3 linked regions of the Homo sapiens genome follow. The protein of the gene in region 2 purifies or fractionates together with the protein of the main gene of each other region. This does not show direct contact. Each region holds a gene or a part of one and is shown on either strand. Other genes may lie near its edges.

What was found.
Region 1: the proteins of CNN2 (region 2) and TRAPPC9 purify together in Homo sapiens (affinity purification with mass spectrometry, with the first as the bait; one large-scale study listed by BioGRID). This does not show direct contact.
Region 3: the proteins of CNN2 (region 2) and OAS1 purify together in Homo sapiens (co-immunoprecipitation; one large-scale study listed by IntAct). This does not show direct contact.

What each region holds. Positions count from the first base shown.
Region 1 is NC_000008.11:140,437,151-140,440,801, forward strand, and holds part of TRAPPC9 (trafficking protein particle complex subunit 9), read right to left. Parts: intron 2,048-3,651; coding exon 1,902-2,047; intron 1-1,901. UniProt on the Homo sapiens protein: Functions as an activator of NF-kappa-B through increased phosphorylation of the IKK complex. May function in neuronal cells differentiation. May play a role in vesicular transport from endoplasmic reticulum to Golgi.
Region 2 is NC_000019.10:1,033,089-1,036,739, reverse strand, and holds part of CNN2 (calponin-2), read right to left. Parts: intron 674-3,651; coding exon of another isoform or gene 611-673; coding exon 494-610; intron 325-493; coding exon 178-324; intron 1-177. UniProt on the Homo sapiens protein: Thin filament-associated protein that is implicated in the regulation and modulation of smooth muscle contraction. It is capable of binding to actin, calmodulin and tropomyosin. The interaction of calponin with actin inhibits the actomyosin Mg-ATPase activity.
Region 3 is NC_000012.12:112,913,314-112,916,964, forward strand, and holds part of OAS1 (2'-5'-oligoadenylate synthase 1), read left to right. Parts: intron 1-3,195; coding exon 3,196-3,425; intron 3,426-3,651.

The sequences.
Region 1 (3,651 bases), on a different chromosome or scaffold from region 2:
TTTTATTTTATTTTGGTAGAAGTGAGGTCTCCCTATGTTGCTCAGGCTGGTCTCCACCCAGTTAATGTTTTTTAATTTTGTTTTGTAGAAGTGAGGTGAAGTAAGATTTTTTTATTTTTTATTTTTTGTAGAAGTGTTGGGATTACAGGCATGAGCCACCATGCCTGGCCGTTTGAAGTATTTCTTATATTTGGCTGGGCACAGTGGCTTATGCCTGTAATCCCAGCACTCTGGGAGGCCAAGGCAGGCATATCAGCTGAGGTCGAGTTCAAGAGCAGCTCGGCCAACATCGCAAAACCCCGTCTCTACTAAAAATAGAAAATTTAGCCGGGTGTGGTAGTGCATGCCTGTAAGTCCCAGCTACTCGGAAGGCTGAGGCAGGAGAATCGCTTGAACCCAGGAGGCGGAGATTGCAGTGAGCCAAGATCATGCCACTGCACTCCAGCCTGGGCAACAGAGCGAGACTCCGTCCCCAAGAACGAAAGAATTTGTTATATTTAATATGTTCTACGGCACCTCGTTAAACTTCTGTTACAGAACTCACCTCATTACTTCATTCCGACTTGTATTATCATAAGTGGCTGACAGGTGTCCTTGCTAAACTGTCAACCTCAACGAAAGAACCCTGTTTTAGTCCTTACCCACACAATGGACTCAGCCAGTCCATCCTCCCAGGACCACCTCCAGGAGGCGCAGTCCCCAAAGGGAAGACCACACACAGACATCCGATTCCACCACGAAGTGTCAGCAACATCTCAGGCAGGGCACCCGCTCTGCCGACTGCTGCGGGGGATCAGAGATGGCTGTGCTTTGAAGTAGGATTTCTTCTTCCCTTTCTTTTAATTTTTAAGATTGACATAGAGTTCACATACCATATAATTCACCCACTTAAAGTGTGCAAGTCAGCAGTTTTTAGTATATTCACAACTGTGCAACCATCACCACTAACTGACTCTGGAACATTTTCATCACCCCAGAAAGAAACCTTATGCCCGTTAACTGTCACTTCCCATTCCCCCTCCTCCCAGCCCCTAGAACCAGTTGTCTACTTTCTGCTTCTATAGATTTGCCTATTCTAGCCACTTCATATATATAGAATCATACAATCTGCGGCCTTTTTCATGCCTGCCTTCTCTCACTTAGCACAAAGTTGTCAAGGTTCATCCGTGCTGCAGTGGTATCACAATTTCACTCCTTTTCATGGCTGAATAATATTCCGCTGTATGCCCATACCACATTTCGTTTATCCATTCATCATGTGACACATGGAGGAGGTTTTGAGGGAGGAGTCTAAGAGGTGAAGATCATGGGGAACGGCATCCAAAGCAGAGGGCAAGGTATACTAAGAACAGAGGAAAAGGGAAAGTGTGGGCAGGGCCTCCTTCAGAGGACGCATGGCAGGGTGGGAGGAGGGCAGCAGATACAGCAGGGAAGCATCCCAGGCCACTGCTCGTGGCAACCAGCACAGGCTGGCTGCTTTTCCTCCCTCATCCCTTCTTTTTGGGGAATTTCTTCTGCCGTTTCCTCTCATTTCTTTTTTTATTTTATTTTATTTTTTTTTGAGATGGAGTCTCGCTCTGTTGCCAGGCTGGAGTGCAGTTGTGCAACCTCTGCTCACTGCAACTTCTGCCTCCTGGTTCAAGAAATTCTGCTGCCTCCGCCTCCCGAGTAGCTGGGACTATAGGCGCGTGCCACCACGCCCAGCTAATTTTTGTATTTTTAGTAGAGACGTGGTTTCACCATGTTGGCCAGGATGGTCTCAATCTCTTGACCTCATATTTGGCCTGCCGTAGCCTCCCAAAGTGCTGGGATTACAGGCGTGAGCCACCGCACCCAGCCTCTCATTTTAATTAACAGTTGAAACAATTACATATCAGATCATCTTCATCAGCTCATCTTACCTCCAAGCCACAGAAAGTCATTCACAGAACGCAGCAGCTCCACCGACATGTGGTAATGCACCAGGGAGTCCTGCAGCATCCCTGCCTGCAGGCACAGGTCCCCCACGTGCTTCCGCATGCGGCCTTGGCACCGCTTCTTGTAATGTCTAGAAAATACATGAAAATGTATCTTTATTACTATACAACTCCCACCCAGAAAGCACTCTGACTAAGCACTATTCAATTCTCTCACTACTAAAAATGCTAAGAAGGCAACTGTAGGCTCTATAATTTTAAGTCAGCAATAATCATTGCCAGTTATGTGAGCTGGAGTGGTCTTAATTTCAAAAATGTACTGCCAAGCAATTTGTTTAAAGGTGATCGGTACGTAAGGACTTCTACCATGTCTTTCACGTAGGCAATGTTACAGTTGGATTTTTCTTTTTAGATTTTCCAGTTGTAACATTAGCATAAGGAAGTTTATGTTTCAGCTTTTTAAAAAAATCAATTATCTTCCACTTCTTAACATCAAACCTCTTATTATTTTATAAAGACAGCTATGCTGAGTCTTATTAGCCAACCATTTGGCTTTAGCAAACAAGACGTTCATCCTCGCTATTTCAGGGCAAGCTTTAGGAAAGCTTCCAGAGAGCAGGGCCTGGGGTGCTCACTAACAGCTCTTTAAATATTGGCAAGGATATACCACTAAATAATGCAAAGGCTTCTGAGTCCCTAATCAACTCAGAAACCAAAGAAACTGTACCAAAGTATTCCTTTTATCATTTTTAAATACATCTAACCTTTAAATGTTATATTTCTTAAGATAGATGATTTTTTTTTTAAAGAAAAACTGCAGCTGGATTAAACTTTCCCTCATCAAGAAAGCAAACTTATCAAGAATAAAACTCCTCTGGAAATCCAGAAGATGTGACGTTTCTAAGTAAATGAATGTTATTGACACATCTCAATACAATGTTAAATCCTATCATGTGTAACTCTAACGAGTTCAACAAACTCTTTGTTACTCTGGAATTTAGCATTTCCATTCTGAATAAGTTTTAAACAAAGATCACAACGTAAGGCAGACGCAGAAAGAAAAAGAAACGCCAGCCTTCGTTTGTCTCCTTCCTGGCCACAAGGCAGTGTCAGGATGGCCCCTGCTAACAGACCCTCCCCATAAGAAAATACAGCATCTAGCAGGGTGCAGTGGCTCACGCCTGTAATCCCAGCACTTTGGGAGACCGAGGCGGGCGGATCACAAGGTCAGGAGATCGAGACCATCCTGGCTAACACGGTGAAACCCCATCTCTACTAAAAATACAAAAAATTAGCCGGGCGTGGTGGCACGCGCCTGTAGTCCCAGCTACTCAGGAGGCTGAGGCAGGAGAATCACTTGAACCCGGGAGGCGGAGGTTGCAGTGAGCCGAGATCATGCCACTGCACTCCAGCCTGGGGGACAGGGTGAGACTCCCAAAAAAAAAAGAAAAGAAAAGAAAGGCATCTGAGCTGCTCTTCCCATCCCAACAGCAGTCACCTCAGCAGCCTCCGCCTAGTCTCTGACTCCTCACCCTGCACCCCCTTCCCCTTCATTGCTTCTATACACACACAGCCAGAGTGTCCTTCCCAAAGCACAAATCAGTCTGTGTCCCTCCCCCACTGCAAACCTTTCACAGGATGCTCAATTCAGTCGTAGGGAGAGGCATGCAGTCCATAGCTAGCCCCTCCCACGGCTCTGGCTTCCCCTCCTACCACTGTGGCTTTGCACTCCACA
Region 2 (3,651 bases):
ACAGAGGCTGAAATCCAAGGCGGAGACAGAGAGCGGGGAGGGAAGCCGGAGGTGGTCTAGGGAAGGGGCTGAGACTGAGAGTGGGGAGAGAAGCTGGAGGTGGCCCCAGGGAGGGGCCGAGACCACAGGGTGTAGAGGGGCAGGGAGAGGAGTCGGGGGCACCCGGGCGAGCCCCACCTGGCTGGCACACTTGTTCGTGCCCATCTGGAGGCTGATGGTCGAGTGGTCCATGGGGGGCAGGATATGGTTCTTGGGGTCATAGAGATGCCTTCTCGTGCCGTAGGCAGTCATGCCCGACTGGCTGGCGCATTTGTTGGTGCCCATCTGCAGGGAGGTTCGTGGGAGAGGTCAGACTGCACCCAACAAGCTTCCGGTCCCTCCCTGAAATTGAGGGACCACAGGGCTCCATGCCGCTGTCCCCCAATGCTGCTGTCCCCCAACACCGTGGTCCCCCAATGCCGTGGTCCCTGGGGCTGGGGGAGCTGTCGCCCACCTGCAGCCCGATGACGCACTGGCCAGCCTTCATGGTGGCATCGTCGAAATTCCGCTCCTGCTTCTCCGAGTACTTGACGCCAATGTCCACCCCGCTCTGCAGCCCCTTAGTCTTGGCCTGGGTGAGGGAAAGGGGCCGGGAGTACCAGCAGAGGGCAGCCAGGGACCCTAGATCTAGGCCCTGGGGGCGGGACAGAGACCAGGCCGCGGCCTGTCACCTCTGCCTGCCGCGCAGAGCCCCCACAGGCACATCTCTCGGGTGTCTGGGACTCCACACACTCCACACACCCATCATACAGCTGTTTCAGTTTTTTATTTTTATTTTTGAGATGGAGTCTGGCTCTGTCACCCAGGCTGGAGTGCAGTGGTGTGATCTCCGCTCACTGCAACCCCCTCCTCCCAGGTTCAAGCAATTCTCCTGCCTCAGCCTCCCAAGTAGCTAGGATTACAGGCGTGTGCCACCACGCCAGGCTAATTTTTGTATTTTTAGTAGAGACGGGGTTTCACCATGTTGCCAGGCTGGTCTTGAACTCCTGGCCTCAAGTTATCCACCCGCCTCAACCTCCAAAAGTGCTGGGATTACAGGCGTGAGCCACCGCGCCCAGCCCATGGGGCTGCTTCATCCCAGCGTGCCTTGTCTTAGGCAACAGCTCAGCTTTCCAGGGCTCAGGCCAAGAATTCTGGGGATGGGGACGTGGTTTTCGCTTCCTCTCTCTCACCTTCCACCACCTCCTCTGACCCAATCCCCGGGCACCATGGCCAGGCCATTGGCTCTGCCCCTCACTGGGATGTCTGCGCCCGGCTCCTCCCTGACCACCATTCCCCACGTGAGGTTACTGGGAGCCACAGGGGGCATCTGAAAACACCATTTGGAGCAGTTACCCCAGGAGAAAACCAGCTCCCGCTTCCTCTAACAGCCCAGCCAATTCCAATGTCAAGACCTTGCTGTTCCTTCTACGTGAGACACCATGTCACAAACACACACTCCCATTCCATTCTACACCAGACACCGTGTCCCACCCACGCTCCCGGTCTACACCAGACACCGTGTCCCACCCACGCTCCCCGTCTACACCAGACACCGTCCCACCCACGCTCCCCGTCTACACCAGACACCGTGTCCCACCCACGCTCCCCGTCTACACCAGACACCGTGTCCCACCCACGCTCCCGGTATACACCAGACACCGTCCCACCCACGCTCCCGGTCTACACCAGACACCGTGTCCCACCCACGCTCCCGGTCTACACCAGACACCGTCCCACCCACGCTCCCGGTCTACACCAGACACCGTGTCCCACCCACGCTCCCGGTCTACACCAGACACCGTCCCACCCACGCTCCCGGTCTACACCAGACACCGTGTCCCACCCACGCTTACCGTCTACACCAGACACCGTGTCCCACCCATGCTCCCGGTCTACACCAGACACCGTCCCACCCACGCTCCCGGTCTACACCAGACAATGTGTCCCACCCACGCTCCCGGTCTACACCAGACACCGTCCCACCCACGCTCCCGGTCTACACCAGACACCGTGTCCCACCCACGCTCCCGGTCTACACCAGACACCGTCCCACCCACGCTCCCCGTCTACACCAGACACCGTGTCCCACCCACGCTGCCGGTCTACACCAGACACCGTCCCACCCACGCTCCCCGTCTACACCAGACACCGTGTCCCACCCACGCTGCCGGTCTACACCAGACACCGTCCCACCCACGCTCCCGGTCTACACCAGACACCGTGTCCCACCCACGCTGCCGGTCTACACCAGACACCGTCCCACCCACGCTCCCCGTCTACACCAGACACCGTGTCCCACCCACGCTCCCGGTCTACACCAGACACCGTCCCACCCACGCTCCCGGTCTACACCAGACACCGTGTCCCACCCACGCTCCCGGTCTACACCAGACACCGTGTCCCACCCACGCTCCCGGTCTACACCAGACACCGTCCCACCCACGCTCCCGGTCTACACCAGACACCGTGTCCCACCCACGCTTACCGTCTACACCAGACACCGTGTCCCACCCACGCTCCCGGTCTACACCAGACACCGTCCCACCCACGCTCCCGGTCTACACCAGACAATGTGTCCCACCCACGCTCCCGGTCTACACCAGACACCGTCCCACCCACGCTCCCGGTCTACACCAGACACCGTGTCCCACCCACGCTCCCGGTCTACACCAGACACCGTCCCACCCACGCTCCCCGTCTACACCAGACACCGTGTCCCACCCACGCTGCCGGTCTACACCAGACACCGTCCCACCCACGCTCCCCGTCTACACCAGACACCGTGTCCCACCCACGCTCCCGGTCTACACCAGACACCGTCCCACCCACGCTCCCGGTCTACACCAGACACCGTGTCCCACCCACGCTGCCGGTCTACACCAGACACCGTCCCACCCACGCTCCCCGTCTACACCAGACACCGTGTCCCACCCACGCTCCCGGTCTACACCAGACACCGTCCCACCCACGCTCCCCGTCTACACCAGACACCGTGTCCCACCCACGCTCCCGGTCTACACCAGACACCGTGTCCCACCCACGCTCCCGGTCTACACCAGACACTGTCCCACCCACGCTCCCGGTCTACACCACTGTCCCACCCACGCTCCCGGTCTGGGTTTGAAGATCACTAGACACTCAACATTCGTCTGATTCTTCTCCTTCAAGGCATTTCTCCCAGTTCAGAGCTTATTTATTACTTTTGTTATGATTATTTTTTGAGAGAGTCTTGCTCTGTTGCCCAGGCTGGAGAGCAGTGGTGTGGTCATAGCTCACTGCAACCTCTTAACTCCTGGGCTCAGCCTCCCGAGTAGCTGGGATTACAGGCATGCACCACCACGCCCAGGTAATTTTTGTTTTCTTAGTAGAGATGGGGTTTCACCATGTTGGCCAGGCTGGTCTCGAACTCCTGGTGTCAAGCAATTCTCCAACCTCGGCCTCCCAAAGTGCTGGGATTACAGGTGTGAGCCACTGCGCCCGGCCAGAGCTTACATATAATGCATAATACAATGCTGTGTTCACTTTTGCATGCCTCCGCCATCAGACTGAACTGCATAAGGGGTAGACCATGTCCTTCCTGTTCACCAAGGAATCTGAAGTACCTGGCACCTCACGGATGCTCAGAAATAT
Region 3 (3,651 bases), on a different chromosome or scaffold from region 2:
CTGCTGTGTCTTAATGATGGGTTCCTATTGTTTGTCCTGATTGGGATTCCGTTAAGATTCCTGAATCTGTGGGTAGATATCTTTAATCAGTTTTGAAACTTCTCAGCCATTCTTCTAAAATATTGATTCTCCTTCATTCTCTCCTCACCTTCTAGAATTCCAATTAAATGTATGTTAGACCCTGCTCTATCTTTCATATCTCTATACTCTCTTCTGTGTTTTTCATCCTTTTGTCTATTTTTCCATGCTTTATTCTGAATAGTTCCTTCTAATCTACCTTCCAATTAACTAATTTTCTCTTTAGCTATATCTAATTTGCTGTAATTAATTACAGTTGCCATTTTTATCCTAAAATTTCTATTTCATATTTTTGTATCTGCCATGGTACTTCTTATGGCTTTTAATTCCCTGCTAACTATTTAAAGTTCTTATTTTATCCTGTGAATATGATATTCCTAGTTATTTTATTTTTAATTTTTATTATTTGTTAATCTTATGTTTTATTTACACTTCTTTTCTGTGACATGAGCACACACAGATTCATGTGTATACATATATGGCTCTGATACCTCTCCTTTCCTGTCCTCATTCAAACCACTGATCACAGAGAGAGGACTATTTTTTTTTATTTTTAATTTTTCTATTTCAATAGGTTTTTGGGGGAACAGGTGGTGTTTGGTTACATGAATAAGTTCTTTAGTGGTGATTTTGGTGCACCCATCACCCAAACAGTGTACATTGTACCCAATGTGTAATCTTTTAACCCTTGCCACACCCCACCCTTTCCCCGCAGTCCGCAAAGTCCCATGTATCATTCTTATGCCTTTGCTTCCTCATAGCTTAGCTCCCACATATGAGTGAGAACATACAATGTTTGGTTTTCCATTCCTGAGTTATTTAATTAAAATAATAGTATCCAATTCCATCCAGGTTGCTGTGAATGCCATTATTTTGTTCCTTTTTATGGTTGAGTAGTATTCCATGGTGTGTTTGTGTGTGTATAACATTTTTCTTTATCCACTCATTGATTGATGGGCATTTGGGCTGGTTCCATATTTTTGCAATTGCAAATTGTGCTGTTATAAACATGTGTGTGCAAGTATCTTTTTTGTATAATGACTTCTTTTCCTCTGGGTAGATACCTAGTAGTGGGATTGCTGGATCAAATGGTAGATCTACTTTTAGTTCTATAAGGAATCTCCACACTGTTTTCCATAGTGGTTGTATGAGTTTACATTCCCACCAATGGTGTAAAAGTGTTCCCTTTTCACCACATCCACACCAACATCTATTATTGTTTGATTTTTTATTATGACCATTCTTGCAGGAGTGAGGTGGTATCACATTGTGGTTTTGATTTGCATTTCCCTGATAATTAGGGATGTTGAGCATTTTTCCATATGCTTGTTGGTATTTGTTTTTTTTTTTTTTTTTTCATTATTATACTTTAAGTTTTAGGGTACATGTGCACAATGTGCAGGTTAGTTACATATGTATACATGTGCCATGCTGGTGTGCTGCACCCATTAACCCGTCATTTAGCATTAGGTATATCTCCTAATGCTATCCCTCCCCAATTCCCCCCACCCCGCTTGTTGGTATTTGTATATCTTCATTTGAGAATTCTCTGTTCATGTCCTTAGCCCACTTTTTGATGAGATTTTTTTTTTCTTGCTGATTCGTTTGAGTTCTTTGTAGATTCTGGATATTAGTTGGATGTATAGATTGTGAAGATTTTCTCCCATTCTGTGGGTTGTCTGTTAACTCTGCTAATTATTTCTTTTGCTTTGCAGAAGCTTTTTAGTTTAATTAAGTCCCATCTATTTATCTTTGTTTTTGTTGCATTTGCTTTTGGGTTCTTGGTCATGAAGTCTTTGCCTAAGCCAATGTGTAGGAGGGTTTTTCCAATATTATCTTCTAGAATCTTTATGGTTTCAGGTCTTAGATTTAAGTATTTGATCGATTTTGAGTTGAATTTTGTATAAGGGGAGAGAGAAGGATTCAGTTTCATTCTTCTACATGCAACTTGCCAATTATCCTAGGACCATTTGTTGAATAGGGTGTCCTTTCCCCATTTTATGTTTTTGTTTGGTTTGTCAAAGATCAGTTGGCTGTAAGTGTTTGGCTTTATTTCTGGGTTATCTATTCTGTTCCATTTGTCTACGTGACTATTTTTATACCAGTACCATGTTGTTTTGGTGACTATGGCCTTACAGTATAGTTTGAAGTCTGATAATGTAATGCCTCCAGATTTGTTCTTTTTACTTAGTCTTGCTTTGGCTATGTGAGCTCTTTTTTGGTGCCATATGAATTTTAGGATTGTTTTTTCTAGTTCTGTGAAGAATGATGGTGGTATTTTGATGGGAATTGCATTGAATTTGTAGATTGTTTTTGGGAGTATGGTCATTTTCACAATATTGATTCTACCCATTCATGAGCATGGGATGTGTTTCCATTTGTTTGTGTCATCTATGATTTTCTTTCAGCAATGTTTTGTAGTTTTCCTTGTAGAGTTCCTAGTTATTTTAAAGTCTGTGTTCGGTCTTTCAGCATTTAAAGTTTGTAGGTTTATTACTATTTCTCTTCTTTCTGTTGGTCATAACTCTTAGTGTTTTGTTTCCTTGTGTGCCTGGTTACATATGTGCTGGTCATTGTATTTGAAAATTATGTGTGAAATAATTTGAGGTTTTGGATTATGTATATTCCTCCAGAAAGAATTTCATTTGCTTCTGTGCATTTCTTAGGAACATTACAAGTCCTTCTTCTCAGTTAATTTTCGTAGTATCTTTATCAGATAGGTGCTATTACAACCACTCACTTAGCAGATGAAAATCATGAGGCTCTGAGAGTCTAAGTCATCTACTTAGAATTGGACAATGGTGAAGCCAGGATTCAAACCCACATCAATAAGAATCCAGCGCTCTTAACAAGGGGCCAGTACACTTTTTTAAAAAATAAAAGGCTAGATAGTAAATATTTTAGACTTTGTGGACTGCACAGCCTCTGTTGCAACTACTCAACCCTGCCTTTGTAGCATGAATGCAGTCATAAACTATACATAAATGAATGAGCCTGGATTCGTTCCAAGGAAACTTTATAAAAACAGGTGGCAGGCTGGATTTGGCCCATGAGAAGTGTAGTTTACACAAAAGTTGAGCAAACCAATTTTTTTCTGATTGTTTTTCCTCTTCTCAGTGTAAGAAGAAGCTTGGGAAGCTGCCACCTCAGTATGCCCTGGAGCTCCTGACGGTCTATGCTTGGGAGCGAGGGAGCATGAAAACACATTTCAACACAGCCCAGGGATTTCGGACGGTCTTGGAATTAGTCATAAACTACCAGCAACTCTGCATCTACTGGACAAAGTATTATGACTTTAAAAACCCCATTATTGAAAAGTACCTGAGAAGGCAGCTCACGAAACCCAGGTATGCTATCCCCACATGGCTTAGCTCCCCTATGTAAATGAACACCTGGATACAGGTACAGTGCCTTGGAAATGGAGGAGGTGGGAGGGCTCCCCACTTAGTGAGAATCTCCTGTTGCCCATCATTGTACTGGGCATTTTACTACTGCCATCTGTTTTAAACACCTACCTCCAACCCTGTGAGGCAGGCACTATGCCAATTATTTTACAGGTGAGTAAACTGAGGT